Regions from separate parts of the Homo sapiens genome. Here region 1 is linked to region 2. Evidence: fine-mapped expression QTL. A gene starts in region 2. The other region holds a variant in brackets. All regions are shown on one strand. Distances are between the middles of the regions. Region 1 overlaps SUSD1 (sushi domain containing 1). Region 2 holds the start of UGCG (UDP-glucose ceramide glucosyltransferase).

Region 1 (16,053 bases), 170 kb after region 2:
TGCTGCCCCCCAGCTCAAACCAGGTAGTCAGGCTTAGGAAAACCACCCTGCCTGCTGGTAATTAGCCATGTGATGTTAAAGAAGCAGCTGTGGCTGTTTGGAATATGACTGTTCTGGAAGGACTTTTCTCCTCTTTTTCACCACCACACTCCCTCGAATGACTCACAGTTCTCCACTTCCTGTTTTGGAGGCGCTGGCCGGCATATAGCCACAAGGGTAAGCTGTCATTTGGCTTTTCTTTTGCATTATGTCATTATTTGACATAAATATCACATTTGTTCTTGCAAATGCTCTCAGGAAGTGACATCACAACTTCTGTTCTCTTTATAATGACAGAATTACAATGCCTTCTGGTAACTTGTCAAGAATCAGAACAATTTATACAATGTCCATCCCTGGAAAGATCTTTGCACATTTACTGAACTTAAATGAATATAAAAGCAGGAAAACCCTAAGTTTTATTATAAATGGATATACAGATAATATCGCCAGACTTTCTTTTTTGTAATTTTATAATATCTCACTTTTTTTTTTTTAACCTTGATTTTACCGAAGGGTCAGCAGAGACAAAGGCAATGTTGGTGAGGCCATGTACATTTTCATCTCCTTGAGCTGGTACTGTGAGCAAGCTGTTCATCTCTCCACGCCAACCTCAATCTTCCTCTCTAAAAAAGGGACTGATGCTACTTTCCTAATCCTGCCATGACCTTTGCAAATAAAACACTTAACTGAACACACTGTAGTCCTCCAACTGAGGTAAATTAATTCCATCCTAATGCCATCTGGAATCCCAGAAGCAGTCATTAATTATACAGTGTCTTGCCTGTAACTCAATACATGAAAAGACAAAAAGATTTACCTAAATGATCTTTTCAGAAACCACTGCACACCCCCCAAGATCAACCTTACATAAAGGGCAACATATTCTGCCTTTGGGAAATGAAACGATGCCCCTGACCCACCATCCATAAAGGATGTACTATGAGACATGAGTGCAAAGGACAATCCTGACATGTCCTAACATGCAACCGACGTTTACCCAGGGACCAAAGGAATGGATGTAATTTCTTGAGCTAAACTGCCCAAATGCTTGTATATAGGGTCCTTTAGAAGTCTCTCTATGTGGCCGGGTGTGGTGGTTCAAGCCTGTAATCCTAGCACTTTGGGAGGTTGAGGCTGGTGGATCACCTGAGGTCAGGAGTTCAAGACCAGCCTGACCAACATGGCAAAACCTCGTCTCAACTAAAAATACAAAAATTAGCCAGGTGTGGTGGTGCACACCTATAATCCCAGCTACTCAGGAGGCAGTGGAAGGAGAATCACTTGCACCCAGCAGGTGGAGGTTGCAGTGAGCTGAGATCGCAACACTGTACTCCGGCCTGTATGATGGGAGTGACACTCCATCTCAAAAAAATAAAAAATAAAATTTAAATTTTAAAAAAAAGAAGTCTCTCTCACCATTAGAAAGGATGCTGGTTGGGATTAAAGGCCAGTCTGTACCCAAGGAAACAAAAGAGGCCCCAACTGCATTGTTCTAACCACCCAAGTGCAGCCACCAACACAGAAGTCTTCTCCTCACCAAAATCAAAGTTTCCAAAACACTCCATGGGGATCACTGGGCAACCGTGGAGAAAGGACAGCTACTGACCTGATTGGTCCATTTTTCTCCTTGGCTTTCCTCAGTCTGAGGCGTGGTAGAGGTCCTCTGTGCACCGTAAAAAATTCTACTTCCGGGAGGGGAGGCTCTGAAAACATGTTGAAAAGAAGAAAAGGGGTATGATTGGAACAAGTAAACAGCAGGACAAAAGAGGTCCTCGTGAGGGCTATCAAAAAGAAAGTTTTAATTTCAGAAGCGAGGAGCCTATTCTGTACATGCCACAATGTGGAAGAACATGCTAAGTGAAATACACCAGGCACAAAAGGACAGATTCTCTATCATTCCACTTAGATGAAAAATCTAACATAGGCAAATTCATAGAGACAGAAGAAGTTGCTGGGGGTGGAGGGGGCATGTAGGGAATGGGAACATATTGCTTAATGGTCACAGAGGTTCTCCTTGGGGTGATGAAAAAATTTTGGAAATACACAGTGGTGAGGGTTGCACAACATGCCAATAAACTGTGTGCTTCAAGATGTTAAAATGGCACATTTTATGTGATGTGTATTTTGCCACAATAAAAAGAAGTGATGAGTATATCATGGCACTGGCAGAGGATAGATGTGGTGAGTATTACAGTTTGCTTGGTGGGTAGATTCCTACTTGGTAGGGAAGACCACCACATCAGCCTTCAATATCCTTTATAATCACAGAGCTCTCTGTCCTTATTTTCCCGCCCCCAGCAACAAGATTTCCCAAATAGGTTTTCCATCCGGAGGAAACTACACTGACTGGCTGACACCAGCGTTCTTGCTCACTGGTAGTTACAGTCATGGTATAAATGTGCTAACTGCCATTCTGCCTTGTGGGTAACACGCTAAGTAAGACATACTGGGCACTAACCATTCACACTAGAGATGTTCTACATATGCCCCATCTTACTTAATCTTCTCAACAGGGCTACCAAGTGGATGATGTTTATAGAAGCAATCATTTGCTTCCTCTCTTGGGGTTCCTACCCATGCAATGTAGGAACTTCTTCCCTCTCCAAAGTATTAGGAAAAGAGCTTCCACCTGGCCTTCTATCCATCCCTGTGATTTGTGAAACAGCTAGTTCCCATGTAGCCCCATCCTTATTTTTTTATTTTTCTTTCTTTTTTTGGGGGGGGGGCGGGTGGGGGCTGCCTGAATGCAGGACAGGTGATTTCCCACCTCCCAGTCCTACTGTCCATCTCTAGGCAAACCTGAGTCACCTGCCTGAAGCCTGGTCTACATTTGCCCTATAGCCGGGGTTCCCAACCCCAGGTGGTGGGCCAGTACCAGTCTGTGGCCTGTTAGGAACCAGGCCACACAGCAGGAGGTGAGCAGCAGGTGGACAAGCATTCCTGCCTGAGCTCCACCTCCTGTCAGATCAGTGGCAGCATTAGATTCTCATAAGAGCATGAACCCTATTGTGAACTGTGCATACAAGGGATCTAGATTGTGCACTCCTTATGAGAATCTAATGCCTGATGATCTGAGGTGGAACAATTTTATCCCGAAACCATCCCCCTACCCACCCCAGTCCGTTGGAAAACTGTCTCTGATGAAACCAGTCCCTGGCACCAACAAGGCTGGGGACCACTGCATTATAGCTTCCACTTCCCCATAGGTGGGGCACAAAGTGTAGGCGTGGGAGGAAGTTCAAGAAGCTTCATTTTGGCCGGGTGCGGGGGTGCGGTGGCTCACGCCTGTAATCCCAGCACTTTGGAAGGCCAAGGCAGGCGGATCACCGGAGGCCAGGAGTTTGAGACCAGCCTGGCCAACATGGTGAGACTCTGTCTCTACTAAAGATGCAAAAATTAGCCAGGCGTGGTGGCGGGCACCTGTAATCCCAGCTACTCAGGAGGCAGAGGCAGGAGAATCGCTTGAACCGGGCAGGCAGAGGTTGCAGTGAGCCAAGATCATGCCACTGCACTCCAGCCTGGGTGACAGAGTGAGACTCTGTCTCAGAAAAAAAAAAAAAAAAAGAAGCCTCAGACCCAAACCAGTTTTACCAGCAATAAAACTGATTACTTTGATCCCTTTCTAACGCTTATGTATCTTCTTCAATTTCCCTAATCTCAGAGGTGGAACAAGTACAGTTATTATCTCAGAAAAACTCATTTTATAGATGAGGAAATTGATACATGACAGATTGTTACTTGTCCAAAGGCCACACGATTAGCAAGTCGTAGAGTCAGAATGTGAACTCACGCTCTGCTTACACACCCCTCTCATTCACCTTGGGGTATCTTAAACATTTGGTTCTACCAATTGATCTGGCAAATTTTCATCCCCTTTGAGTGAACTAACAAACTCTACTTTAAAAACACCGGCCAGGGACAGTGGCTCATGCCTGTAATCCCAGCACTTTGGGAGGCAGAGGTGGGCGGATCACTTGAGGTCAGGAGTTTGAGACTAGCCTGGGCAACATGGTGAAATCCCATCTCTAGTAAAAAAATACAAAAATTAGCCAGGCATGGTGGCACACCTCTGTAATCCCAGCTACTCAGGAGTCTGAGGCAGGTGAATTGCTTGAAGCTGGGAGGCAGAGGTTGCAGTGAGCCGAGATTGTGCCACTGCACTCCAGCCTGGGCGAAAAAGTGAGACTCTGTCTCAAAAAGTAAAAATAAAAACACTGAATCCCCAAAGATTTTACAAACACATCAGCTCCAATAAAATGATCCACTTGCCACAATTACTGCAGAGTTAGAGGTCTACCCAGTGTGGCTCACATCAGAGAAGCTAGACTACAGTTAAACTGCAGAAATAATACGATGTAGTGGGTAGGAACACAGGACTTGGGTTGCTATCCTGGTTCTATCACTTATACCTCCAGCAGCCTCATCTGTTAAATAGGGGTAGAAACAACCTCTACCTGTTAGGCCTGTTGAGGGAATTAATGAGCCAATTCATAATGATTAACAATAATAGTTAATGAGTCAACACAAGTAAAGAGAATAAAACAGTGCCTGGAACACAGCAGCCGTCAGCGCCTGTTGGCACCTGTATGATATCACTTGAGCTACTAGTTGCCAATTCTATGCTAGGAACTTTGCCTCTGCTGTTTCAACAAATACTCACAGCAGCTCTGCGTGACAATCATCTCTATCTTATCAGTGAGGAAATCAAGGCTCAGGCAGGCCGAGTCACACCACTAGAAGACGGCCGGCCGAGCCAAGTGTGGAACTCAGTAATTTGACTCCAAAGTCTCCTTCGCTACATTGCCAGGCCATGACAATGCTTGCGTTCACTTTACCTGAGATTAAACCATGACCTAGAAGTAGAAACCTGGAATTACAAATCCCTGAGGAATGAGAGACCTCTGTGCCTGAGACCGTAAGGAACAGAGCTTGGGGGTCCTGGGGTGTCAAACACCAAGGATCTCTTAATTAGCAAGTTCAAAGGGAAGGGATGAATAGAAAAGAAAAAACTCAGAAATGACCCCAGGAGGGAGACCATAGGGACAGGTTTAGCTCCTTCCCAGCTTGAGTACACAGGAAATGTCATTCAGGGAACTGTGACTTGTAATATAGAAAGAGGGTTCCTTACAGCACAGAGAGTGGCAACAGAAGCCAGGCGAAATAGGCAGTGTTCCTAAGTCAGGTCTGGAGTGGCATTCTGCTGAATGAACGGGGCTTGAAAGAAAACAAACCTGGAAGAGACCATGGAAAGCTGCAACCCTGTAATCGCGAAACTCCCAAAGATGGGACACCTTGTGCCTGAGATTCTCCGAGTCCGTACGTGTTGTCTTTTCATATGTTACATACTTTATATGTAAGTGCTCAGCATCCCTTTTTCTGTGGAGAGCGGCCCTTCTCCTTCCCATATGGTTCTTATGGGGCCAGCATTCCCAGTACTCCAAATCCCCACTGGCCCAGGGCCCAGTGATTATGGATTGCCATTCCCCAGTCAGAAGATGGCTCAAAAAGAGCAATCTGTTTAGGAGATTGGAGGTTTTATTTTTTGTTGTTTATCTGTTTTTTTGAGATGGAGTCTCACTCTGTCACCCAGGCTGGAGTACAGTGGCATGATCTTGGCTCACTGCAATCTCTGCCTCCCAGGTTCAAGCTCTTCTTCTACCTCAGCCTCCCGAGTAGCTGGGACTACAAGGCATACACCACCATGCACAGCTAATTTTTGTATTTTTAGTAGAGATGGGGTTTCACCATGTTGGCCAGGCTGGTCTCAACACTCCTCACCTCAGGTGATCCGCCCACCTCTGCCTCCCAAAGTGCTGGGATTACAGGCGTGAGCCACCACACCAGGCCTAGAAGATTGGAGGGTTTTATTCTTCTTCTTAGATTGTAGCTGTAAGTACCAGGTAGGCCAATAGTACAATGTCCATCCTCCCAGGTCTGGCTGGAAGAATTTGGCAGAAAGAGGGCCTCATGGCTGGAAGAGCAACGGGCCTGTGGTGACACCACGTGTGACTGAAGCTTGCTGTCTCCAAACAAGATCCATCCTGGGCCTTCCCAGTTCTGTGATCCCACAGATTCCACATGCTTAAGCTGGTTGGAGTTGGGTTTCTGTCACTTGCAACCAAAAGAGCCCTGACTATAGAATGCATCCAGCGCCTTGGTATTCTGTGGAAAGGCAGAACCCTCAGCTGTGTACTGGCAGGAACTCTGGTGCTAGGCCAAGTGAACACGGTAGGGAAGTGGTCCTTATGCATTTGTGCAAGAAGAATTGCTGTGAATTCCAGGCAAATGCTAAACCCCTTGGGTGGTGGAGACAGTGAGGACAGCAGGAAGAACTGCCTTAAGAATCCCCTTTAGACCCTGGACTAAACCACCCCTCCTTCAAAGTCTATCACTGCATCAGCTCAGTAGGGCAAGGGAGGAAGGGCATGATGGAAGGAAAGAGAAAGAGCTATTAAAAACATATGTATGAATGCCTCCCCCCCAATCCCCCCACCCTAGCCCTAAACCCTGCCACTGTGAACTGAAGGACTCTGAGGCCAAAATAGATTCTCAAGACTGTATTTACCAGATTAGAAAATAGCTTTGGGGTAGAAACCCTCAATCTCAAATTATAATAAATAAAAACTTAGACCTGCCTGGACCTTTACAGTTGTTAAAGCACTACTATATATATTATTCATATATCTGCATTCAACAAACACCCATTAGCCACCTCTGCCGCAGGCTCTGTGCTAGGCTGGGGGAGACAAGCACAGAAGACATGCTTTCTGCTTTCTGGGAGCTTGGAGTGTAATCATGGAGACAGTTTTGTAAAGGTAGTGCCCAGAGCTGTGATGGAGTTATATACAGAGCACTGTGGATGTGAGGAGGAACATCTAACTGAAGGCAGGGAGCTGAGCCTATCAAACACGGAAATAGACATCTGCAGAGGCATGAGGTGGTGGCAGGGAGGGATAGAACTACATGGAGTTCCTGGCTGAAAGGTTGAGGTCTGGCAGAGTAGAAGTAGGTGGTCAAGTTAGAGGGGTAGGTGTGGGTCAGATCTGAGAGATCTGAGGTTCCAGAAGTAATAAGAAGCCATTGAAAGATTTTTAGCAGGCTGGGTGCACTGGCTCATGCCTGTAATCCCAGCACTTGAGGCAAGCAGGTTGTTTGAGGCCAAGAGTTCAAGACCAGCTTGGGCAACATGGTGAAACCTTGTCTCTACAAAAAATGTTTTAAATTAGTCAGGCACAGTGGTGTACACCTGTGATCCCAGCTACTCATGAGGCCAAGGTGGGAGGATTGCTTGAGCCCGGGAGGCAGAGGTTGCAGTGAGCCAAGATTGCACCACTGCACTCCAGCCTGGGCAACAGCTAGACCCTGTCTCAAAAAAAAAAAAAAAAAATATTTTTAGCCGTTCTGCACTTCAAAAATACAACTTAGAGAGCTGATCAAAGGATGAATAGAAAAAGGGCAAAAATACAGGTTGTCCAATAATCCAGGTCGGAAGTGCTCGAGGTCTGCTGCAAGTGAGAGCACTGAGAATGGAGAAGAGGGAACAAACGGAAACCTTGCTCAGGGGAGAGACGGCAGGAATCTGGCAACCAAGTCAGCAGTGATGTCATTTACCAAGTCTGGGGGAAGACGAGAAGCAGCTCACTTCTAGGTCTGTTCAGGTTGAAGTGTATAAGGAATCCTCCAGCAGGCAGTTAGAAACATAGGTCTGGAGCCTAGGAGCAAACCCCATGGTGGAGATACAGAGGCAGCTCACAGGGAGGAGTGAACGTGGCCACCAGGGAGCCAGTATCAAAGTATGTGAGGAGAGATGGGGGCCAAGGGCGGACCACCGAGAAACCCAGGCTCTAAGACCAGGTGGAAGAGTAAGAGAACTCTGTGGCCTTTATGAAACAGTGTTAGGTCTAGAATTTCTCCCAGAGTCTCTTAGACACTGCAATATAGATCATGTTTTTCCTAAACCTGCGGCATTGCCAGGTGTCCCAGGAGGTCACCTGGAAAAGCCTCTGCTTAGAGTCTAGGCCTCACATCACTCATTTGTTGAAATGAAGGTCTATGCTATTTTCAAGAGCAGTCCAGAGAGAGATTCTGTAGGATACAGCTGAGAAGACAACAGCTGGATTCCTGTGGCAGTGATGGAGGAGAGAGGAAAAGCCCACACATGTCCCCTGGGAACGTACCCCTTCCCCTTTGAGATCGAACTGCCCTCAGGCCCTTTGCTATCACCGAAATGCCCTTTCACTTGTGACGTTTTGTTGTCACAGTAAAATTAACTTTTTTTATTACGTGTCTCCTCTTCTCAGCCAAGGTGGAGATTAACTGGTCACTCTTTTCTGTGTGAGAACTCCGCCCCACCCCACCCCGCCCCGCCCCCACCAGCTCTTTACTCCAAGAGTAATAATTCTAGTTCCTCTAATCTC[T/G]TGGCTAACATTTTAAAACCACACAGGAGAAGCAGAACAAAGTACTCACTGAGCTCAGAAGAGGCAACTGCAGACCGAGCAGGAAGGCCATCCCCCTGCTTGGTCCAGGTGATGTCACTCTTTCCCAATCTAGAGTCACAGTTTTCAAGGCACCACAGTCATCTGGTTCAATCAACATGTGACTTTGAGACCATTTTCTGCTCTGTTTGCCTAAGGTCTCCCTGCCCTATATTTTATTTTATTTGTTTTTGTTTTTGTTTTTGCTTTTGCTTTTTGAGATGGAGTTTCGCTCTTGTCGCCCAGGCTGGAGTGCAATGGTGTGATCTCAGCTCACTGCAGCCTCCGCCTCCCGGGCTCAAGCAATTCTCCTGCCACAGCCTCCCGAGTAGCTGGGATTACAGGCATGCACCACCACACACGGCTGATTTTTGTATTTTTAGTAGAGACGGGGTTTCTCCATGTTGGCCAGGCTGGTCCCGAACTCCTGACCCCAGGTGATTCCACCTGCCTCGGCCTCCCAAAGTGCTGGCATTACAGGCATGAGCCACCACGCCCAGCCGCTGCCTTATATTTTAAACAGTCTACTTTTTCTCTCCAATGTACAAGCCTAAGCCTCGTCAGGCTGGTTCTCAGCCACATTTCGAGGTGGAACAAACTTGACTTTCAGCTGAATTTTCCAAGGTGCTCTTCCTTGTCTCCCAAACTGATGTCCTGGGTAGACCTGCTCTCCTTTCCATCAACCTCGTTACTGATTTAAACTGATTTAGACCCAAGGCAAGAAATGGGTCCTGCCTGTGCTGGAAAATATAGCTCTTTCACCTTGGGTGTGTGAGATGGGAGAGGAACCAGAACAGAGACCTTCATTACCATCCTCGGATGTCAGGAATATCCCTCCTCTGCTAGAAGCAAATGGCAAAAGAAATCCTCACATGGAGGGAAATGTGGGGAAAAGTAATGAAGGAGAATTTGCTCTGCAAAAAAAAATATTAAATGTATCATAAAATTACAGCAATTGAAATAGTAAAGTACACGCACAGGACAGACAAACAGTGAAAAAAAGCTAGACAGTCTGGAAAGAGACCCAAAGAAATGCACCAGGTGGCATGGATGGTCAGTAGTTCCAAAGGTGATAGGGAACTGGCTTACAGCTGGGGAGAAAAATTACAATGTAAATTTAGCCTCATATCAGACATCAAAATAAATTCCAAATGAACCTAAGTGGTTTTGTTTTGGTTTTGTTTGTTTGTTTGTTGTAGAAAAGTGGTCTCACTGTGTCGCCCAGGCTGGGGTGCACTGGCATGATCATAGTTCACTGCAGCTTTGAACTCCTGGACTCAAGCAGTCCTCTCTCCTCAGCCTCCTAGAGCGCTGGAATTATAGGAATGTGCCACTGTGCCCAGCCTGAAACTAAATTTTAAGTGCAAAAAAGTAGGTCAGGTGCAGTGGCTCCCACCTATAATCCTGGCTTTTTGGGAGGCCTAGGCAAAAATGATTGCTTGGGCTCAGGAGTTTGAGACCAGCCTGGGCAACATAGTAAGACCTCATCTTTACAAAAAGAAAAAATTAGCAGGGTGTGGTGACATGCACCTGTAGTCTCAGCTACTTGGGAGGCTGAGGCAGGAGGACTGCTTGAGCCCAGGAGTTTGAGGCTGCAGTAAGCTATGATTGTGCCACAGCACTCCAGCCAGGGCAACATAATGAAACTCAGTCTCAAAAAAAATTGAAAAGAAAACAAAAGAGTAAATAGCCTTGGAGTAGGAATTTGTAATATTTATCAAAATATTAATATCACTAATGAAGGTAAACTATTAAATCAACCAAAGAAAAAGGGTAGTATAAGTACAAATGTGTTAAAATGTCTCTATGTAAAACCCATCAAAATGAACAAAAAGAACCAAAAATGGAAGAAAATTTTATCTGCATCAAAACTAAGCAACGTCTCCAACTTTGTACTGCAAACTTCAAGTAAACACAAACAATTGAATTAAAACACAACTCCACCGCCCAAAAACCCAGTACAATGCTACTTTTCTGGATTTTCTATAATAAAAAGTAGGTAGAAAAATAAACACAGCATGATGGTTCTTTTCTAATCCTCAGGCACCTCTCCAGATATATCATCCCATCCAAGGCATGGTAAATTAAAATTGAAGGCAACAGAAAAAATAGTGTCTTCCACTACAAGTCATCAGCTAGATATATCTTCTCCATCAATAAAGTTATGAGACTTCACCTCCCAAGGAGAAGAAACCAATTTCTTTTCACATGTACATCCTCAGTAGGCAGCACAGGTCTTTGTACATAACCAATCGAAAAATATTTGCTAGTGACTTCTCAAGACATCTCCTTTTATTATTTATTTATTTTTATTCTTTTTTATTTCTTTCTTTCTCTTTTTTTTTTTTTTTTGTTTTTTTTTTTGAGACGGAGTCTCACTCTGTTGTCTAGGCTGGACTGCAGTGGCACAATCTCAGCTCACTGCAACTCTGCCTCCCGGGTTCAGGAGATTCTCCTGCCTCAGCCTCCCAGGTAGGTGGGATTACAAGCACCCACACCACACCCAGCTAATTTTTGTATTTTTAGTAGAGACTGGGTTTCACCATGTTGGCCAGGCTGGTCTCGAACTCACCCACCTCAGCTTCCAAAAGTGCTGGGATGGGATTACAGGCATGAGCCACCGTGCCTGGCCAACCCATCTCATTTTTAACAAATACAAGTAAATAAATAAATATTTGCTAAATTAAATTGTTACAGCTCAGCAAGCCCCTCCCCCTCTCCCAACACACACAGAAACCCTAGTTTCCAGGCTTCTGATCTAAGAATACCTTCTCATGCACGTTTTATAAAAGCTAACTTTGGCTGAGATTCAGATGCTGGTAGCAAGAGGGTCTGGGAGACACCCATCCCCACACAGCCATTTACTTGGGGGCTTGGGGTTTGTTTTGAAGCTAGAAAGCAGTTGGGAGATTTCTGGGAATGAGAGAAATACGTGGACTGTGGAAGCATGGAAGGGCAAACATGCCTCTCCTAGCGTGACCTAATGTTAGGGCTCCAGATATCAAAAGAGCCTGTGTCCACGGAAGACTTGGAAAGGAAAACAGCTGGCATGAAGGCCAGTCCCTCTGCTGACCTGTGGTACAGCTTCAGCCCCCTTGGAGCCAGGGGGGCCCCCAGGGATAAGTGTGGTACCTTGGAACCAGCCAGGGGAGATGGGTTTCTCACTGAGGACACAGGGGTACAGCATCCTTGGATGGTTTGTGGGTAACCAACCATGAAAGAGAAGCCTCGGTAAAAGAAACCAAGAGACCTAGTCCTGCACAGTCTTCCCTGAGGACATCCCATTGTGGAGGGCGGTGTCAGAGGCAGGGGCAGGGAGGATCAGGGCAGTCCTGGCTGGACCTCTCTGATAAAGTGACAATCTGATAAATGCCTGGGACACTCCTGTGTTTTCTGTTGTTTTCCTAACCGTCTGAAAAAGTACTTTCCTTTTTCTTGTTATGAATACAATGAGAGATGGGAAATTTCTTGAAGAAGTTGCCAGCCTTGGTACTGAAGACATGGGAATAAATAATTTCCTTTTCATCTTTTCTTCCCTTTGCTCCTCCAGCATGCTTGGTTCCATAATAAACATTCCATCTCAAATGATCACCATGTTGTGTAAGACAAGTGGTCTGGTTTATCTCCACATTTACGTATGTATTGGCTTTCTCACGCTCACTCTCTCTCTCTCTCTTTCTCTCTCTTCCCCACCCCGCCCCCACCCACCCCCATCCTCCTCTCTCTGGTTTCCTCTTTCTCTCTCTATATAAGAAAATGTTGCCTACAAAGCTTTTAGACTTAGCAAGAAAATAGCATACTCAGCTGGACAGTGGCTCATGCCTGTAATCCCAGCACTTTGAGAGGCTAAGGGCAGGCAGATCACTTGAGGTCAGGAGTTTGAGACCAGCCTGGACAACATGGCAAAACCTCATCTCTACTAAAAATATATTTTTAAAATTAGACGGGGCTGGTGATGTGTGCCTGTAATTCCCGCTACTTGGGAGGTCGGGGCATGAGAATCGCTTGAACCTGGGAGGCAGAGGTTGCAGTGAGTCGAGATCACACCACTGCGTAAGCAACAGAGCAAGCCTGGGCAACAGAGCAAGACTGTCTCAAAAAAAGAAAGGGAAAGGGAAAGGAAGGGAAGGAGGCCAGTGCAGTGGCTCACACCTGTGATCCCAGCACTTTGGGAGGCCGAAGTGGGCGGATCACTTAAGGCCAGGAGTTCAAGATCAGCCTGGCCAACATGGTGAAACCCCATCTCTACTAAACATATAAAATTAGCCAAGCGTGGTGGCACACACCTGTAATCCCAGCTACTTGGGAGGCTGAGACATAAGAATCACTTGAACTCAGGAGGTGGAGGTTGCAGTGAGCTCAGATCACGCCACTGCACTCCAGCCTGGGTGACAGAGCGAAATTCTGTCTCAAAACAAAAAAAAAGAAAAAGAAAATAGCACACTCAACATGTGGATGCTCTTCTGACTCTTTGGGGCCTGCATCAAGGATGAAAGTTTGTTCCTCACCCTGTCCTAAAGGGGATGCGTGCCGTGGGGCTATCCTGAAGAATTCAGTTCAATGTGCCGTCTGCAGCCTATCAGCCAAGAGTCAGAAACACCGTGAGGCCACAGCTCCATCTCACCCACCCCCTCGCCAGCCCCTGCTTTCCTGCATTCACCGAAACACTTGCCTCTGTCCCTCAACATTCCTAGAACCTTCACTGTCCTCTGAGGTCAGCGATGTATTTAAAGCACTTGTTTTCATCCTGTTCCCATCAGTAAGATTTAACGTAAGACACTCAGAAGGGAAATTCCACTCTCTTTCCTTCTGGGAAATGAGCAGCTACATTGTCCAGACCCAAATCCTTAGCCTAACACATCTGCCAAAATTCAAAAGTTCATGATTTTACCGAAATAAGGCCACACACTTCTTAGGAAACCACGAGTATCTCTGCACATCAACACATAAGCTTCTCTTTTTTCCTCCTTTTATAAAAGAAAGGGGTTGGTTTTTTTTTTTTTTTAACTCTTTCATAAGATCAAAGCAACTTGATTTTTTTATGCTTCTTTAAAATTACGAGTCCTTTAAAGTGGGTAGAGTTGGAAAATAGGCATCTCAATGAACATTAAACAGCTCAACAATGTCCCCTGGTGGCCATGAGCACAGAGAGAGGGAACTTGAGCCACTAAAGCTCTATTCAGCCTACCAAACAAGGAGTAAGTGTCTCATCAAGATGAAACCCCCTCCCCTTTACTCAAAAAAATATGCAACGGTCCTTCAAACCAGAAAAGCACAGCATCCAAATATGAGAAAGACCACAGAGTAGGAAATGGAGATGGAGTCGCTATTCATTTTAATAAGTCACCACAGAAAGAAATGCCCAGACTGAACACCACTTGTCTCTCCAGCCCAAAATGTGGGGAATTCTTTCTGGTAGCCAGAATTCATTGCCTAACCAGACATCTCCTCAACACCAATACCACCCACTGGCTGTTATTTTAAAATTTTGGGCTGTTATGCTATCTATCAGTACCATTCTTACCCACTGAGGGTTGAATGTAAAACATACAGACAAAAATCACTGTCTTCAGGAAGCTCCTATTTTAGTGGGAGAGAAAGAAAATAAAAAAAAAATAAGTTTTTAGAAAACAAGCTCTAGGCTGGGCACAGAGACTCATGCCTATAATCTCAGCACTTTGGGAGGTGAGATGGGAGGATCACTTGAGGCCAGAAGTTCAAGACCAGCCTAGGCAACATAGGGAGACCCTCATCTCTACAAAAAATAAAAACAAAAAAATCCCTTTTGTAATTAGCCAGGCATGGTGGTGAGCGCCTATAGTCCCAGCTACTCAGCAGGCTGAGGCAGAAGGATTGCTACAGCCCAGGGGCTCAAGGCTGCAGTGAGTTATGATTGCACCACTGCACTCCAGCCTGGGTGACAGAGTGAGACCCTATCTCTAAAAACTAATAATTAATATTTTTTATTAATATGAAGCTCTATGAAGAAATTGAAGCAGGGTAAGTAGATACAGAGTACTAGCGTGGAGGCTGGTGATGGCAGTTGAGCAGGCACCTGAACAACTATGGAGAAGCCATATGTTGACAGTGTCCCAGGAAGTGTGAACTGCAGATGGAAAAGTCTGGAGGCTGGAAAAACTTTGACCCATTGAAGGAACTGCAAGAAGGCCAGGGAGACAGCTGATGCTTAATGGGAAAGGAGGAGAGCAGGGGGAGATGAATTAGAAGTAGGCAGGGGCCAGATGACATGTCCTATGATGAGGAACTTGGATTCCATTCTAACTTTAATGGAAACTCACTGGAGAGTTTTGAGCTGGTGCTGACATGTTCCCAAATGCATTTTTAAAAGATCACTCTGAGTGCTGAGTGATCTTTTGAAAGTTATGGTGAAGACTAAGACTAAGGTCCAGGGTGGGAGGTATATAGGCAAGAGAAAACCAGTTTGAAAACTACAGCAGGAATCCAAGCAAGAGGTGGCTGTCTTGGATTAGGGTAGTTGTGGAAAAGGCACAGGTGGGGAGAAGTGGTGGAATTCAGAATATATTTCAGACAGCAAGCCAACAGGGCTTGTTGACAGATTAGAAATTTGGGGATGGGATAGAACCAATTAGGACTTGTTTTTGGTCTGAACAATTGGGTGAACAGAAATTCCAATAACAGACAGAAAGTAACAGATAGAAACAGAGAAGCCTGGGTGGAAACCGATTTGGGGGCGAGGGCAGAGGTGAGAAATCACAAGTTCCGTTTGATTTGCGTATTAGATGTTCAATAGGACATGTGTAGAAGTTGGGTGGATATAGGAGTCTGGTGCTCAAAGGAGAGGCTGGGACTAGAAATTGATCTTTGGAAATCCTCTGCATATAGGTAATAGTTATAGCCATAAGACTGGTTGAGATCACCTAAGCAGAAAGGGTAGATAATGAAGAAAAGGAGGCTGAAGAGGGGTCATAAAAGTAGATGGAGCTAGCAAAGAAGACTGAGAGGGGACAGCAAGGCAGAAGGAACCAAAACTAAGGGAGAGGGGGTTTCAAGAGGGAGGGAGTGTCAACGCTATCGAAGAAATCAGATAAGAACAAAACTGGCCATTGGATTTGGCAAGACGGAGATCAAACGAAGAGCCTTTCAGTAAAGCAATGAAGACGTATGTTTCCCACGTGGGATGAGTGAAAGTGAGAACAGGAGGTAGGGCTGTGGAGCCTACAGAACAGCCATTTCTTTCAAGGAGTTTTTATAGAAAGGGGCAGAGAGAAGGCAAAGTAGCTGAAGACAAATATGGGCTCAAAGAAGGTCTGCTCATTTTTTCTTTCTTTTCGTTCACAAGGAGGATGTTGCAACATGCTAGGCAATGCTGGGGATAATTCTGTATTGAGGGGAAGTGCTGATCAGGGAAGAAGGGATGGGATCTAAGGCACAAGTTGAGGGGATGGCAGCCTTACACACGAGCAGGGACAGGAAGGGAGGCAGAACAGGATGCAAGGAGGAACGGCAGGGCTGAGCGTGGGAAGTCCTCACCTGACTACTTCTAATTTCTCAGTGA
Region 2 (16,053 bases):
CTGAGAAGAACATGAACTCTAGTAAACTCTAGTCACTCCCCTGGACCACACCCACATATATAAACACAGGATACCAGTGGTTTATCAAGATCAGGCCCTGAACTGATAATTTGCCTGGAATCTTTGTATCATTTAAAGGCAATTTACAGTAACACAGTATCTTAGGATCTGAAGGCTTTTACAAAGTTACCATTTCATGCATAACAAACCAATGTAAGTTAATCACCTGAGCTGATAGTTAAGGTATTTTTCTACTTAATTCTAAACATGTTTAGAAAAAAGACAAGAATTACTTTTTTCTTGGCATTAGCACCACAAATTTCACGTCAATTGATTCTTTGTTTATGAAACTTCAAATTTACTCAATTTCTGGAGGATCACCTTGTTTTCACCTTATTTTTTAAGTTTTTATAGGGCTGAAAATTTACAGTATGCCTATCTTTTAAAAATAATAATACACTCACCATAGAAAACTGGATTGTGATGTTTAAAATGTTTACATGAAAAATTATTTATAACAATGACAAAGATGGAAAATATGTGATATTGAGACGAAAATTATGTTGTTGACTGTCAAGTAGAGTATGGGCTTTGGAGCAGGTCTTCAGGACATGATTAGTTGAACTAATATGTAATTACTCTAACTCTTTAGCTTAATTTTATAAGATAAAGGAGGAGGTATGGAAGTTAATGTGTATTTTTCTCACAACGAAAAACCATTTAAAAATCTTTACAGACAAAGGAGAAAGCTGAGAAATTTTTCCAGAAAGTTTTTCCAGAAAATTTCAGAAGTCACTGAAATTTTTCCAGTGACTTCTGTCAATGGATAAATAAACATTTTATCTATTCATTCAGTCAACAAATATTTAAGTGCCCACAAGGTGCTAAATCCTGGGATCTGATGGCAAACTGGTAATTTTTTTTTTTTTAAGTCAGAGTCTCGCTCTGGCACCCAAGCTGGAGTGCAGTGGCATGATCTTGGCTCACTGCAACCTCTGCCTACCAGGTTCAAGTGATTCTCCTGCCTCAGCCTCCCAAGTAGCTGGAATTACAGGTACCCACCACCATGCCTGGCTAGATTTTGTATTTTTTGTAGAAACAGGGTTTTACCACGTTGCCTGCCACCACGCCCAGCTAATTTTTCTATTTTTTGTAGAAACAGGGTTTCGCCATGTTGCCCAGGCTGGCTTGAGATCCTCCCACCTTGGCCTCCCACAGTGCTGCAATTACAGGCCTGAGCCACCGCGCCCAGCCGCAAACTGGTATATCTTATTCAGACATTTATAGCATTTCCAATGTTATACACATATTTGTATACATATATAAGTAGAACACCTTTAGTGGAACACTCACTAATTTTTTTTAAGAATTTACTTTTTAGAGTAGTTTTAGGTTCACAGCAAAACTGAGCAGAAAGTACAGAAGGTTCCCATATACCCACTGCCATTCCCTCCACCAGCCTCCTCCACTATTAACATCTTGCACCAGAGCACCATATTCGTTACAACTGATGGACCTACATTAACACACCATTATCACCTAAAGTCCATAGCTTACATTAGGGTTCACTCTTGGTGGTGTATTTTCTACGGGGTTTGCCAAATATATGACATGTATACACTATTATAGGATCATACAGAATAGTTTCACTCACAGCCCTAAAAATCCTGTCATCTATTTGTCCCTCTTTCCTCTGCTCCATGGCAACCACAGATCTTTATACTGTCTTCATACTCTTCCCTTTTCTAAAGCTGTTTTAAAACGAAGTTTGGGTAAACATAGTTTAACTAGGGTCAAGTATAATATAACTGATCTTTAATCTACTGATTATACTCAATTTAGCAAATTTGTTAACTCTTAAGAATATCTACTTTCACATTTCTTTGGCCTCTTTTTTTGTGTTATTGGTCATACTGTATAAAATCCTTTGTTGTAAGGTTCCAGAAAACATTTTTGAAAAAATGCAGAATATAAAACAATGCTTAAATTAAGCAATTGGTGTTCCTCAAATCTAAGAGGGCATTTAATGATAAGATGCAGCATTATTTTATATATCACTAAGATGCACTATTATTTTATATTTGAGTAAAAGAAAACCACAAGCCATTGGCTGGGCACGGTGACTCACGCCTGTAATCCCAGCACTTTGGGAGGCCGAGGCAGGTGGATCACGAGGTCAGGAGTTCGAGACTAGCCTGAACAATATGGTGAAACCCCGTCTCTACTAAAAACACAAAAATTAGCCGGGTGTGGTGGTGTGCAAATGTAGTCCCAGCTACTGGGGAGGGTGAGACAGGAGAATTGCTTGAACTCAGGAGGCGGAGGTTCCTGTGAGCCTAGATCACGCCACTGCACTCCAGCCTTGGCGACAGAGCGAGACTCCACCTCAAAAAAAAAAAAAAAAAAAAGAAAAAACGCCAATTAACTCTAAGATGGCATTGACTGTGAGATGCATTCCCATTTCAGAGAAATTAAAATTTGTTAAAGTGTTTTTTTGAAGTGTGCCTTAGAATTAACTACAATCGTAAATTTTTGTTTGGAACGTTATTTCGATGTTAGAATTCTATTCCACTTTTTTTTAAGACAGGGACTCACTGTCACCCAGGCTGGAGTTAAGTGGCGCGATCACAGCTCACTGCAGCCGCCACTTCCCAGGATCAGGTGATCCTACCACCTCAGCCTTCCCGGTAGCTGGGACTATAGGTGCCATAACCATGCCTGGCTAATTTTTTTTTTTTTTTTTTTTTGTAGAGACAGGGTTTCATCATGTTGCCCAGGCTGGTCTCAAACTCCTGGCCTCAAGCAATCCTCCTACCTGAGTCTCCCAAACTGCTGGGATTACAGGCATGAGCCACTGCGCCTGGCCCTCCATCCTGCTATTTTTATCAGCCAGTAACTCTCAACAGTGGGAATTTGATTTTGAAGCATTGTTCTTTCCCACTGATTCTGCACCAGTGGAGCCAAGGATGTTAATCGAGGAATGGTTCGGACATTAACTCTTCTAGTTGTAGTTTGTCATTTAATTGCAGATTGAGGTAGATCATTCAGTGACTATTAACTACCATAAACAGCAATAATAAACAACTTCTTTTCTTTTTTTTAAATTCATCTATTTTTTTTCGAGACAGAGTCTCGCTCTGTCGCCCAGGCTGGAGTGCAGTGGCGCGATCTCGGCTCACTGCAACCTCCGCCCCTCCAGGTTTAAGCAATTCTCTGCCTCAGCCTCCGGAGTAGCTGGGATTACAGGCGCCTGCCACCACGCCCGGCTAATTCTTTGTATTTTTAGTAGAGACGGGGTTTCACCATCTAGGCCAGGCCGGTCTTGAACTCCTGACCTCATGCTCCACCTGCCTCCGCCTCCCAAAGTGCTGGGACTACAGGTGTGAGCCACCGCGCCCAGCCACAACTTCTTTTCAAAATTGAATTCAATTCTGAAATATCTCAAGGGAGGTCATGGATTATTTAAAAGGAAATCACTTGCAACAATAAACATAAAACAATGCAGAAATAGTATAAACTCATCTAGATTGAAGAAACACAAACATTGAGTACTAGCATCTTCTTGGGATGACTTAAAATTAGGACAAATACTTAGTTACCTTACTACCCAAAGTGACATTTCTTCCCATTTTAGAGCTGTGCTGTCCACACGTACAATTAAAATTTTCTAGTAGCTAGCCAAAGTATTTAAAAAGAGAAATTAACTTAATAATTTACCTAATTTAATGTAGTATGTCCAAAATATTACCTTTTCAACATGCAATCAATATAAAATTTACTAACGAGATGGTCTTCCACATCTGGTGTACTGTTTACTCCACAGAGTGGCAAGCTGCCTTTCCAACCCTCACTTAGCCACATGCGGCTACCGTATTGGATGGCAGTCTTAGGGAATTTCAATATCAACTGATTCTTTAATTCTGAATTTGAGAATTTCTTTTTATAATACACACGGTCGCTAAGGCGCTTAGAGATCTGTGAGGCGCATGGAGATTATTTTACTCTCCGGTCCCTTTTGATCCAAGATCCCACAGCATTAAAAGCAGTAAGAGGGAAGGCAATGGGCATCCCTTGCGCCCAGGAACGTGGCCTGGAGGGCCTGGCTGCTCCGAGCAGTAGCAGTGCCCGGCGGGGAGGCTGCAGACGCGGCGTTGGAAGTTGGATTTCTAGACAAGCTCCGGCAGCTGCCCGGAACCCGTGTCTTTTTCTGGGGCACCCAGGAACAGCAGGGCCAGACGGAGAGAGAGCAGCCTCCAGCCAGGCACAGGGTCCCGAGCTGCCACCGACACCGAGGGAGCCCGGCCCAGGGCTGCAGCGCTTTCCGCCTAGGTGGGCGGCAGCGGGAGCGAGGAGCCGGAGGAAGCCCGGCCTGCGTCCTGCGGGCAGCAGGACACGATCTCCCCGGCGCGCTCTCGCCGGCGCCGCAGCGGGCGCGCGGGCGACAGGGTGGGCGTGGACCGATGGGGGCACCGCCCCTGGGAGAGGCGGGCGCCGCGGTTCCGGGGGCGGGACGCGCCGAGGAGTGGGGCGCGAGCCGCCGGTTTTGATTAGTGCGCGGAGCTGCGGCGGTGGAGCTGCTCGGCCGGGAGCCCGGCGGCGAGACGGAGAGGCGGCGGAGGTGCCCGCGCGCAGGGTCTGGTGGGCGGCCGCGAGGCTCGGGAGAGGCGAACCGGAGCGCGGGACCGCGGTCGCCCCGACCAGAGCCGGGAGACCGCAGCACCCGCAGCCGCCCGCGAGCGCGCCGAAGACAGCGCGCAGGCGAGAGCGCGCGGGCGGGGGCGCGCAGGCCCTGCCCGCCCCTTCCGTCCCCACCCCCCTCCGCCCTTTCCTCTCCCCACCTTCCTCTCGCCTCCCGCGCCCCCGCACCGGGCGCCCACCCTGTCCTCCTCCTGCGGGAGCGTTGTCCGTGTTGGCGGCCGCAGCGGGCCGGGCCGGTCCGGCGGGCCGGGGGATGGCGCTGCTGGACCTGGCCTTGGAGGGAATGGCCGTCTTCGGGTTCGTCCTCTTCTTGGTGCTGTGGCTGATGCATTTCATGGCTATCATCTACACGTGAGTGAGGGACCGCAGGAGGGGCTCGGGGCAGGGGTCCGGGCCTCGGAGACAGGCGAGAATGGGAAACGTTTGCGCTTTGAAGGGGACTGGGCTCGGGCGGGGGTGGAGAAAGCTGATCGTCAGGCTGTTCCCCCCGTTCCCTCGCCCCTCGGACCGGCGGTGGCGGTGGTCTTTGCGAGGGAAAAGTGTTGGGCGTGGGAAGGGTTTGCTGGGTTGCAGGCGACTGCCCAGCCAGGCTAAAGGAGACTGCTCTTACGTGTCAGGCTGAAGGTGGTGGCTTGGTTTGATTGTGCTGGGGATTCGTGTAATTTTTCATCTGGGCCGAGATGTATGGTGTATTGTTTTTTTCTCCCGACCTGGGCCACGTTTCTGTTAGGGTGGTGATTGTGTCCACTTTTCTGGGAGCTGCTCACAGCTATCTGGACACCTCTCTGTGGATTTTCTTCTTCCTGGAAGGGCTCTATGCGCTTAGATAGGTGTGAAGCACCTGTCCACCCTGAAAAATGTCCACCAAACCTCCGAGCTGGCATGATAGCTTTGAGTCCTGTCAGCTTGTACATCTCAGCGTGGTTTTCTTTCCTTTTTTCAGTTCCTCGTTTTATTGTTTTATGTAGATTTGTACTCTCCCCGTGCCGGCCACATCTTTTCATTTTTGTTTAACAAATACTTCTTGAGGCCTACTAGATACCATTCACTGTTATTGGCCAGGGGACATGGTGGTGAGCAGGACAGAATTCCTGTCCTCATGAGTCTTACATTCTAGAAGGAAGGAGCAGATAAAATCTAAATAAGGTTATGAGATTGTGACGAAGCGTGTAAGTAAAATAGAACTGGGTGATGGCGTGAATAGAGACATGGGTTATGTGGCTAGTTTGGTATATCCACTGTTTAAGGTGAAATCTGCCTCTGTAAAGAAATGAAAAAATTATATAGAGCACATTACTGATATCGATTCACTTGGATTTTTAGTCTGGGGGGAGAAAAGAGCAATTGTATATAGTAATCGTTACCATGAACTAGAATAGAGTGTATGTTAGTGGAAGAGACTTTAAGAAATTAGTTACTTTTAGTTTTTTGGTTTTTTTTTTTTCCTTTTTACTGCGGAAAAAGTGTGCCTTTGCTTTTGGAAACACTGTATTTTATTAGTATAGTGTGGCATTTCCTGGTACTGAGAAAGATGATGCTGGTACAGGTTATACTGATATTTCTTTGAAAGTGAAAGAAAACATGCCACTTGGATATTGTTGACTTTAGTTTTTGGAGTTGGTGAGCTTAGTCACAGCACATTCTGGAGTTCATTTAAAATATGTGAGTTCTTTTTCTTTAAAAAAATTGTTACTTTTTACCGTCATAAAAATAAAAAATGCTTACTGTGTAAGGAATTTATGCAATAGAGAGAGATGGAGAAAATTAAAATATGCACACACCAAAACTACATTACCTTGTTAACCTTTTGTGACTATCCTTCCAATCTGTGTGTGTGTGTGAGAGAGAGAGAAGGAGGGAGGGGAAGAGGGAAGAGAGAAAAGGACTATATTATGATTATTGTTCTGTAACCTGCTTTAAAGTTCATCTGTTTAATAAATGTTTATTGAAAAGCCGTTTTGTGCAAGGCACTGTTCTAGTTGCTGGAAGAGTGAAGAACAAACATACAAGGCCCCTGTTCACATGGAACTGTCCTGTAAAATGTCTTGACCGTTTTTTGCATGTCAATATCTGTATGATCTCTACATCATTTGTAATAGATGCATGATATTTTAGTTTACCAGGTACCAAGATTTATTTATTATTACTGATGGATGTTTAGGTTGTTTCCAATTTATCTAGATTACAAAGAACACTGTGATGAATTTATATGCATACATCTTTGAGAAATGATCTCATTTATATTTCCGAAAGAGGAATTATTGGGCCAGAAGTGGTGCACATTTTAAACTTTGATACATATTGGCCCCATGGAAATGTTATGTATATTCACAGTCCTGGTAACATTGTATGATGGCCCCATTTTGCCTTACAAACACTAAGTAGCAGGCATTTCACTGTTTTCTGTTTCTATTTTCATTCCTTTAAAGTTACATTGAGCACTTTTAAAATATGTTTATATGCTAGTTACATTTAGATGTAAATTACATACTCATAATCCTTTGCCTGTGCTGCAATCTGTTGCTGAATTCATCTTTCTGATATAAAGGTTGTTTTCTGTCACATGTAGCATTCTTTTCCCCAGTCTGTTTTTTGTCTTTTAACTTTGTACATATATTTGACATGGAGAAAAGTGTGTGTGCATGTGTGTTTTAGGTAGATAGGTCTTTCCGTTTCTTTTACATTTTCTAACTCTGTTATAATTTTTATATCTTCCTTATTCCTCCAAATTATTATATATGTTAGTCTCTGCTTCCTCTTAGTATTTTTTTCTTAATTTTTTCACATATTACCCTGAATTCACCCAGTATTTTACTTCGTTATATGAGAGCTAGAGCCCTAATTATAGTTTCTTCTAAATATTTAGAGACTTGTCCAGAATTACTTATCAGATGATTATTTGATTATTCCACTGTTTTGAAATATTTTTATTATAAACTAAATTCTGCTTTATACTTGGGTATGTTTCAAAGCTTCTATTGCCCTTTCTTAACCTATTTTAGATGGCAGATGTTTGTAGGATTTCTGCCAACAATGTCAAAGGTAACATTCAGATTAGAGACATTTCAAATTCAAGAGTCTTATTGTTGAGATTGAAGATTTCCTAAAAATAACTAAAGAGTATAGCCTTGGCAAGTTAAATAGCCTTTATGGGTTAATTTTTTTTTTTTTTTTTAATGGTAAGTGCTAGTGTGGCTTGATAGGTTGGGGCCTAAGGTGAAATTGTATAAAAGCCTAGACCTGATGGTAGTGTTTCTCTTCTAGCCCTTGGGAGCCACGTTGCTGCGTGATGAAGTGATCTAAGCAGAAACCTTGCTTCATGCTCTCTTCCCTATCCCATCCACCTCATATTATTATTATTTCCCTGTGTACATAAGGTCCTAATGTTTATCATCAGGCTTTATCTTTCGACTGGAGGTGCTAGGCTAGTGTGGAAATAATTTATGTGTCCTTAAATATTAGCTACCCTCAAGTAAAACAGAGGTCCTTTTTTACCTGGAGGTGTATATGTATATGTGTGTGTGTGTGTGTGTGTGTATTCTTTCTTTGATACAGGGTCTTGCTCTGTTGCTTAGGCTGGAGTGCAATGGCACGATCTTGGCTGACTGCAACCACCGCATCCCAGGCTGAAATGATTCTCCTGCTTCAGCTTCCTAAGTAGCTCCCAAGTAGCTGGGACTACAGGCATGCCTGGCTAATTTTTGTGCTTTTTGTAGAGACAGGGTTCTGCCATGTTTCCCAGGCTGGTCTTGAACTCCTGGACTTAAGTGATCTACCTGTCTTGGCTCCCAAAGTGCTGGGATTACAGGTGTGAGCCATCATGCCTGGCCCCCTGGAGATTTTTTAAGTTTTTTTTAAAGTTAATTCTGCTTTCTACAAACGTATTTCCTTTATTTTGTTTATTGTTATTTTTTTGAGACAGTCCTCTCTGTTGCCCAGGCTGGAATGCAGTGGCTCGATCACGGCTTCACATCCCAGGCTCGAGCAATTCTCCCACCTCAGCCTCCCAAGTAGCTGGGACTACCGGTGCATGCCATCACGCCCAGCTAATTTTTGTCACCCAGGCTGGTCTCAAACTCCTGGGCTCAAGTGATCCCCCCACCTTGGCCTCCTGAAGTTCTGGGATTACGGGCGTGAGCCACTGCGCCCAACCCAAATATGCTATCTCTAATGTACAGCAACTTCAATACCTGATGCACAGTTTTTGAATGGAATTTGCATACTCATTGTGTCAGGATAACTGCGATAAACTACCCGTCAAAAACTGGTTATGTTTTTCATGTAAATTTTAGCATTTGGGATATTATTTTTAGTTAGTACGATCTTTGCCTTAAATTCATGAATACTTGGTGTTCCAAGCCTTAGTGGAATGTAAATTGAGAACGTCTTTTTTGGGTTTAGTCCTGCCAATGCCCTTGGACTGTGGTCAAACGTTCATCAGTCAGGATCATTGCTACAGGGCTACTTTCAGGGAAATGAATAAGGCAGTCCAGCAATTCAGCCCCTTTAACCTGAGCCTGGGAAGATACGGAATTAGACTATAGTGTGATAGCTTTAAAGAACAAAGTGAGGGGCAGTGTGGGGAGGGAGAGCATCAAGAAGAATAGTTAATAGATACTGGGCTTAATACCTCGGTGATGGGATGACCTGGGCAGCAAACCACCATGGCACATGTTTACCTACGTAACAAACCTGCACATCCTGCACATGTACCCCTGAACTTAAAAGTTGAAGAAAAGAAAAAGAGCAAAGTGGAAATTGCAAGATTTTAGTATTCAGTGATGGTTCTATTGATTCATTATCCCTGCCTTTCTCTCTGACATTAGTTAGTTCAGCACACCTTCATATCTATCCTAGATGTTGAAGCTATGTCTACTCGCTGGTATCTCTAGCTGCAGCCTTGTGCCCCCTCGATTTTATATTTCTTATTGTAGCCTTTATCCTTCTGGATTACTAATCTTGGATCACAGTAGCTTAAAATCTTACCATGAATCCTCATTGCCTCCGGGTTACAGTTCAAACTCCTTAATGAGACAAGCACAGCTCTGTAGGAGCTGAACCAGCAACGTTGTATTACTGGCATTTCCCCAAATGTACAATGTGCTTTCTTTGGAATTGTCTTTACTTTCTTTCTTTTTTCTTTCTCTTCCTTCTTTCCTTCCAAAAATCTTGCTTAATTAACTCCTACTCGTTCAAGTCATTTTAGACTTTAGTTCCTTATTGGGTTAGGTGCCCCTTATGGCACCCAGCCATCTCCTATTTGTTTTCTATGGTGGTGGAATCTTCTACATTCTATAGTGTAGTAAGCCCATTGTCCAGTGGGCAGAGTTTGTGTTTTCCTATAGAGCTAACTCACTATTGGTTATTTTACCTTCTGTGAGAGAATTTGTGTTAGCAAGGTTAAGCTTGCACAAGAAGGTGTGCTTTATATTGCTTATGAAGCCCATTTTGAAGCAATACCATTTTTGAAATAAGTGATACAGGTAGTAAATTGGTCATGATATACTGATTATAAACAAACAGTAATATAGTCATGAGTGATAACAATAACAAAGGTCATTAGTCACTGGAAATTGCTGGCATGGACTATGTGAAGTTAGGGACTTGCTGATATAGCAGTGAACCTAATTTTACACGAAATACTAACAAGCTTTGTGACTTGGAGCAGGGAAGATAAATTCCTAGAGTCAGATAAATTGGTTCAGCAGAACCACACAGCGGAATTATAAAAACAACACATTCTGGGGTTGTTAAGCAAGGTGAACTTTTGCCCTTGTGGAATTCATATTCTTCCTTAGAAACCTAGAGTGAAATTCTCTCTTTTTTTTTTTTTGAGACAGAGTCTCATTCTGTTGCCCAGGCTGGATGGCAGTGGTGCGATCTCGGCTTACTGCAACCTCCGCCTTCTGGGTTTGAGTGATTCTTGTGCCTCAGCCTCCCAAGCAGCTGAGACTACAAGCACGTGCCACCACACCCCGCTAATTTTTGTACTTTCAGTAGAGGTGGGGTTTCATGATGTTGGCCAGTCTGGTCTTGAACTCCTGGCCTCAAGTGATTCCCCCATCTCAGCCCAGCAAAGTGCTGGGATTACAGGCATGAGCCACTGTACCCAGCCGAGTGAAATTCTTGTGCCTCACTTGTGAGGAGCTGTATTAAGGTTGCTGCAGAGGCTGCTTCCCGCCATCTGAAGGGGAAGGAGCCCACCCTCCTTGTTTAACCTTTACCTGTCTCCAGTGGGTTTCCCTGCATCCCAGGCTTCCCTCTTGCAAAAGCCAAATTTGAAAACAGAACTGTAAAAGAAGTTATTTAAAAATGAGACAGACAGGGCGTGGTGGCTCACGCCTGTAATCCCAGCACTTTGGGAGGCCGAGGCAGGCAGATCACCTGAGGTCAGGAGTTCAAGACCAGCCTGACCAACGTGGCAAAACCCCATCTCTACTAAAAATACAAAAATTAGCTGGGTGTGGTGGCAGGCGCCTGTAATCCCAGCTACTTGGGAGGCAGAGACAGGAGAATCGCTTGAACCCAGGAGGTGGGGCTTGCAGTGAGCCAAGATTGTGCCACTGCACTCCAGTGTGGGTGACAGAGCAAGACTCTGCCTCAGAAAAAAAAGAAAAATGTTCCCACCTTGGCTTTTTTTCTTTTCTTTTTGAGATAGGGTCTCGCTCTGTTACCCAGGCTGGAGTGCAGTAGTGCGATCATGGCTCACCACAGCCTTGACCTCCCAGGCTCAAGCAGTCCTCCTACCTCAGCCTCCTGGGTAGCTGGGACTACAGGCACATGCCACCACGCCTGGCTGATTTTTGTGTTTTTTGTAGAGACGGGGTTCCGCCGTGTTGGCTAGGCTGGTCTCGAACTCCTGAGCTCAAACAATCTGCCTGCCTCGGCCTCCACAGGTGCTGGGATTATAGGCCTTTCCATTCTTCAGTCACCCAGTCTTTCTAGACCTGTGGTTGTCAAGTTTGACTGCACTATGGAGTCACATCAAGGGCTTAAAAAAAAGAAACAACTGCTGCCTGGGTCTCACCCCTACAGACATGGTTAAATTGGTTCAGGCATCAGTATTTTCAAAACTCCATAGGTGACATGGATGTGCAGCCTAGGCTGAGAATGATTGCCCCAGGCTGTCTGCCCACAGTTGTGTCCAGCACCTGCCACCTCTTGGCTTCATTTAATTCTCCATTTAGCCTAGAGCCCACAGTTCATCACTTCATTATCTTGCCTCTTGCCTCACCTCGTATCAGTCTGCCCTGTTATCTTGAATCCATCCAATAATTATAGCTGCTCAACTTTGAAAATCCTACAGAGGGTAATCACACAGCCATGTGGACTAATACTACTACACATTGGTAGTCTCAGGGCTCAGCTAAACCTGCATTGCGGTGCTGCCTGGCAGTGCTTTTTTTTCTGTGTTTAGCTCTGACATCCATCACTTAAAAAAACCTCTTCTAAATCTTCATTCTACCGCATTCTTGGTAGATGACCTTAGCTCCTACTTCATACTGTGGATCCCATCATGCCTTAAATTAGTTTTTTCTTTTTCTCTCTTTGCCCTTCGGCTAGCTCTTCTTGAATTTTTAAAGAATTTCAAGTAGTCTTTAAAAAATTGAACTAGAGGCTGGGCTTGGTGGCTCACACCTGTAATCCCAGCACTTTGGGAGGCCGAGGCAGGTGGATCACCTGAGGTCAGGAGTTTGAGACCAGCCTGGCCAACATGGGGAAACACCATCTCTACTAAAAATACAAAAAATTAGCCGGGTGTGGTGGTGCTCGCCTGTAATCCCAGCTACTCCGGAGGCTGAGGCAGGAGAATCACTTGAACTCGGGAGGTGGAGGTTACAGTGAGCCAAGGTTGTGCCATTGCTCTCCAGCCTGGGCAACAAGAGCAAAACTTTGTCTTGGAGGAAAAAAAATTCAACTAGAGAGCCAAGGCGGGGAGGATCGCCTGAGGCCAGGAGTTCAAAACCAGCCTGAGCAATATAGCAAGACCCCATCGCCACAGAAAAATTTTAAAAAATTAGCCAGAGGCAGTGGTATGCAGTGAGCTATGATTGCCACTGCACTCCAACCTGGGTGACAGAGCAAGATTGTATCTCAAAAAAAACTAGAAAAATTAAACTAGAAGCCGTCTGTTCCACCCTTTGGCCCTTTCACTCACTGTCAGGTTTCAGTAGAAACTAGTGTTTGTTTACTGTTATCACATTTCAACTCCCATTCATTTACTTTTTAACCGATTTTTAGCTGTCTACCCTTATCCTCCATGAACTGCCCCAATTCTTGCCAAAAGTGCTCAGAGATAGCAGCAAGTACATATGTAATCTACTGGACATTACCATTCTTACCTTGGTCTCTCCAGCAGCATTCAGTGTTATTCTTTCTTGAACCCTTTGAGAAAGAAAACAGCCTGGCCAGATAAACCCTTCTGTCACTTTACTTGCATCCTGGCTGTCTTTCTGCTTCTTTGATCCCCACTTTTAGTCTCCTTCATGCATTACTCTTTTTTTTTTTTTGAGAGGGAGTTTCGATCTTGTCATCCAGGCTGGAGTGCAGTGGCACAATCTTGGCTCACTGCAACCTCTGCTTCCCAGGTTCAAGCAGTTCTTCTGCCTCAGCCTCCCAAGTTGCTGGGATTACAGGCGCACCACCGTGCCCGGCTAATTTTTGTATTTTTAGTAGAGACGGGGTTTCACCATATTGGTTGGGCTGGTCTCGAACTCCTGACCTCAGGTGATCCACCCGCCTCAGCCTCCCAAAGTGCTGGGATTACAGGCATGAGCCACTGAGCCCGGCCTCTCCTTCATGCATTACTGATTCAATAATAATATATTCCTTCTTGGCCATCTTCTAAGAATGCTGTGCCTCAGAGAGCTTGTGTATTTACCTTACGGTGGATGGCTTCTGTATTTTTATCTCTAGGCTAACCTTACCTGCTGAGCTCTCTGTATCTGTTTATTTATTTACTCTTCATTTATTCAAAATTATTTTTAAAAATTGAGAACATACTGTGTATTATTGCTTTGCTGGGCTCTGGAGAATTTATATTCTACTGTAGTGTTTCTCCAGTTGTAGTTTACTGCCAGCCTGCATCATTTGGTATGCTTGTGAAAAATGCAGATTCCTAGTCTCTTCATCTGGTTTATTCACTTGTGATCTCTACCTGTGGGCATTATTTATACTACAAGTTGCAAACCTCTGGTCTCCTAGATGAGATGTCACCACTTGATGTCTTGAGAGTAAATTAAAGTTCGTATGTTCAAAAGTTCATTACTCTTTCCCATCTCTCATTGTGCCCAGATTTTATGAATGGCACCACTAGTTACCATAGCCTGACCCAGGTATACCCCTCATTATCCCTCATTCCCCCTCCAGCAATACCATCATCAGTTATTGGCTAAACTCCTTGATTCTGAGTTCTCACCTTCTCTTGACTTTGCTTCCTTCGCTTGTTTCTTTTGTGTGTGTGTTTTGTTTTGTTTTGTTTTGTTTTGAGACAGTCTCGCTGTGTCGCCCAAGCTGGAGTTCAGTGGTACGGACTCGGCTCACCACAACCTCTGCCTCCTGGGTTCAAGTGATTCTCCTGCCTCAGCCTCCCGACTAGCTGGGATTACAGGTGTGCGCCACCATGCCTGGCTAATTTTTGTATTTTTAGTAGAGACGGGGTTTCACCATGTTGGCCAGGCTGGTCTTGAACTCCCAACCTCAGGTGATCCACCTGCCTCAGCCTCCCAAATTGGCTGGGATTACAGGCATGAGCCACTGCACCCAGCCTTTCACTTGTTTCTTATGCCTTTCTGGTTTGTGTGCTTGTCTCTTTCTTTTGGACCTTTGCAATATTTTTCCCTTGCCTTCCATCTCCCCTGCCTGTACTTTATTCTCTTAACTTCTATAAATACAAAAATGATCCTGGTTGCTTCCTTTTAGTCTTTCATGGTTATTTCTTGCCTAGAGGATGAGCTCCAGGCCTTTTCAGCCTTGTCTGTGAAGTCACGAAGAATTTATAGCAGAGATGAGTCTTAAAGCAGTGCTGCTCAAGCTTGAGTGTGCCTGTGAATCACCTAGAGATCTTGTTAAACTGAAGATTGAGTTTCAGTAGTTTTGGGGGATGAGGCCTGAAATTTTGAAGCTCTGAAAAGCTCCCAGGTGTTGCCAATGCTGCTGGTCCATGGGCCACACTTGGAGTATGAAAGTCTGGAAAGACCGCCTCCTAGGAGTAGTTGGATGCTTCCATCTCTCTTCTCTCAAAGTGTTCCAAACATACTTTGATGATAGCCTGTATCACACTGCATTTGCAGAGTCCCGTACAGACTCTACTTCTGAATGAGAGGTGGCGTGTGCACATGTGAGAACCACCTCTCCTATTAACACATGGAAATGCTGTAACGATTAGACACTTACACACCCAGAGCCTGAAAATGTGAAAAGAAAATCTGCATATTCCAGAAACCAAGAGGGAATGCAAAGCAGTGGGTTGGTCTGGTCTGCTAATTTGAATCCCGGTGGGGTTTTAATTTATTGATATTTCTTCTCATTGGTATATTTTCCTGATTCTTTGCATGCTTGGAAATTTTTTAATAGATACCAGACATTTTGAATTTCACCGTGTTGGGTGCTGGATGTTTTTGTTTTTCTGGACTGTTGACTCCAGCTCTTCAATTCATTTTCTTTCTTTTTTTTTTTTTTGAGATGGAATCTTGCTCTGTTGCCCAGGCTGGAGTGCAGTGGTGCGATCTTGGCTCACTGCAACCTCCGCCTCCCGGATTCAAGTGATTCTCCTGCCTCAGCCTCCCGAGTAGCTGGGATTACAGGCACGTGAGGCCACACCTGGCTAATTATTTTTTGTATTTTTAGAAGAGATAGGGTTTCACCATGTTGGCCAGGCTGGTCTCGAACTCCTGACCTCAAATTATCCTCCCGCCTTGGCCTCCCAAAGTGCTGGGATTACAGGCGTGAGCCACCGCACCCAGCCTACCTTATTTTCTGTGTCATAGGAATCACTGTCTTCCTTTGCTTGATGTCCAGTATCTTCAAAACTGTTGTCTCCTGTATTTTTTTCTGATTTTTTGGTTGTTTCAGGTGGGAGAGAGTAAATCCAGTTAGCGTTTCTTCATCTTGTCCAAAAGTTGAAGGCTTGGGGGGTGGGTGGTGGGAAGAGTAGGGCTTTTAGTACTAGTGCGAGGACAGAGTCAGTGCTGCACACTAGTTATAATAACCTCAAACTGTAAACAACCCAAACATCCATCAACAGAAAGTAAATAAAGTGTGGTATATTAGTAAAACTATCCTGTAACAAGAGTGAATACATGATAGCTAAATGTAACAACGCGGATGATTCTCACAAACATAACGCAACCCAAA

The links.
Region 1: its variant is fine-mapped to the expression of UGCG in whole blood (TOPMed, PIP above 0.99). The same link has a PIP of 0.9 or more in neutrophils.

The regions. Positions count from the first base shown.
Region 1 is chr9:112,061,289-112,077,341 of GRCh38, forward strand. SUSD1 (sushi domain containing 1) reads right to left here. Exons shown (of 17, transcript NM_022486.5): 13 at 1,649-1,745. Among named protein-coding and RNA genes, the nearest start is that of LINC02977, 29 kb to the left of the region's middle. RefSeq lists enhancers at 12,428-12,597, 15,803-15,902. The variant T/G (reference allele first, on the strand shown) is at 8,460.
Region 2 is chr9:111,892,265-111,908,317 of GRCh38, forward strand. UGCG (UDP-glucose ceramide glucosyltransferase) reads left to right here and starts at 4,550. Exons shown (of 9, transcript NM_003358.3): 1 at 4,550-5,049. The coding sequence starts at 4,952. RefSeq lists enhancers at 4,001-4,584, 11,495-11,594 and silencers at 4,205-4,794, 4,905-4,994.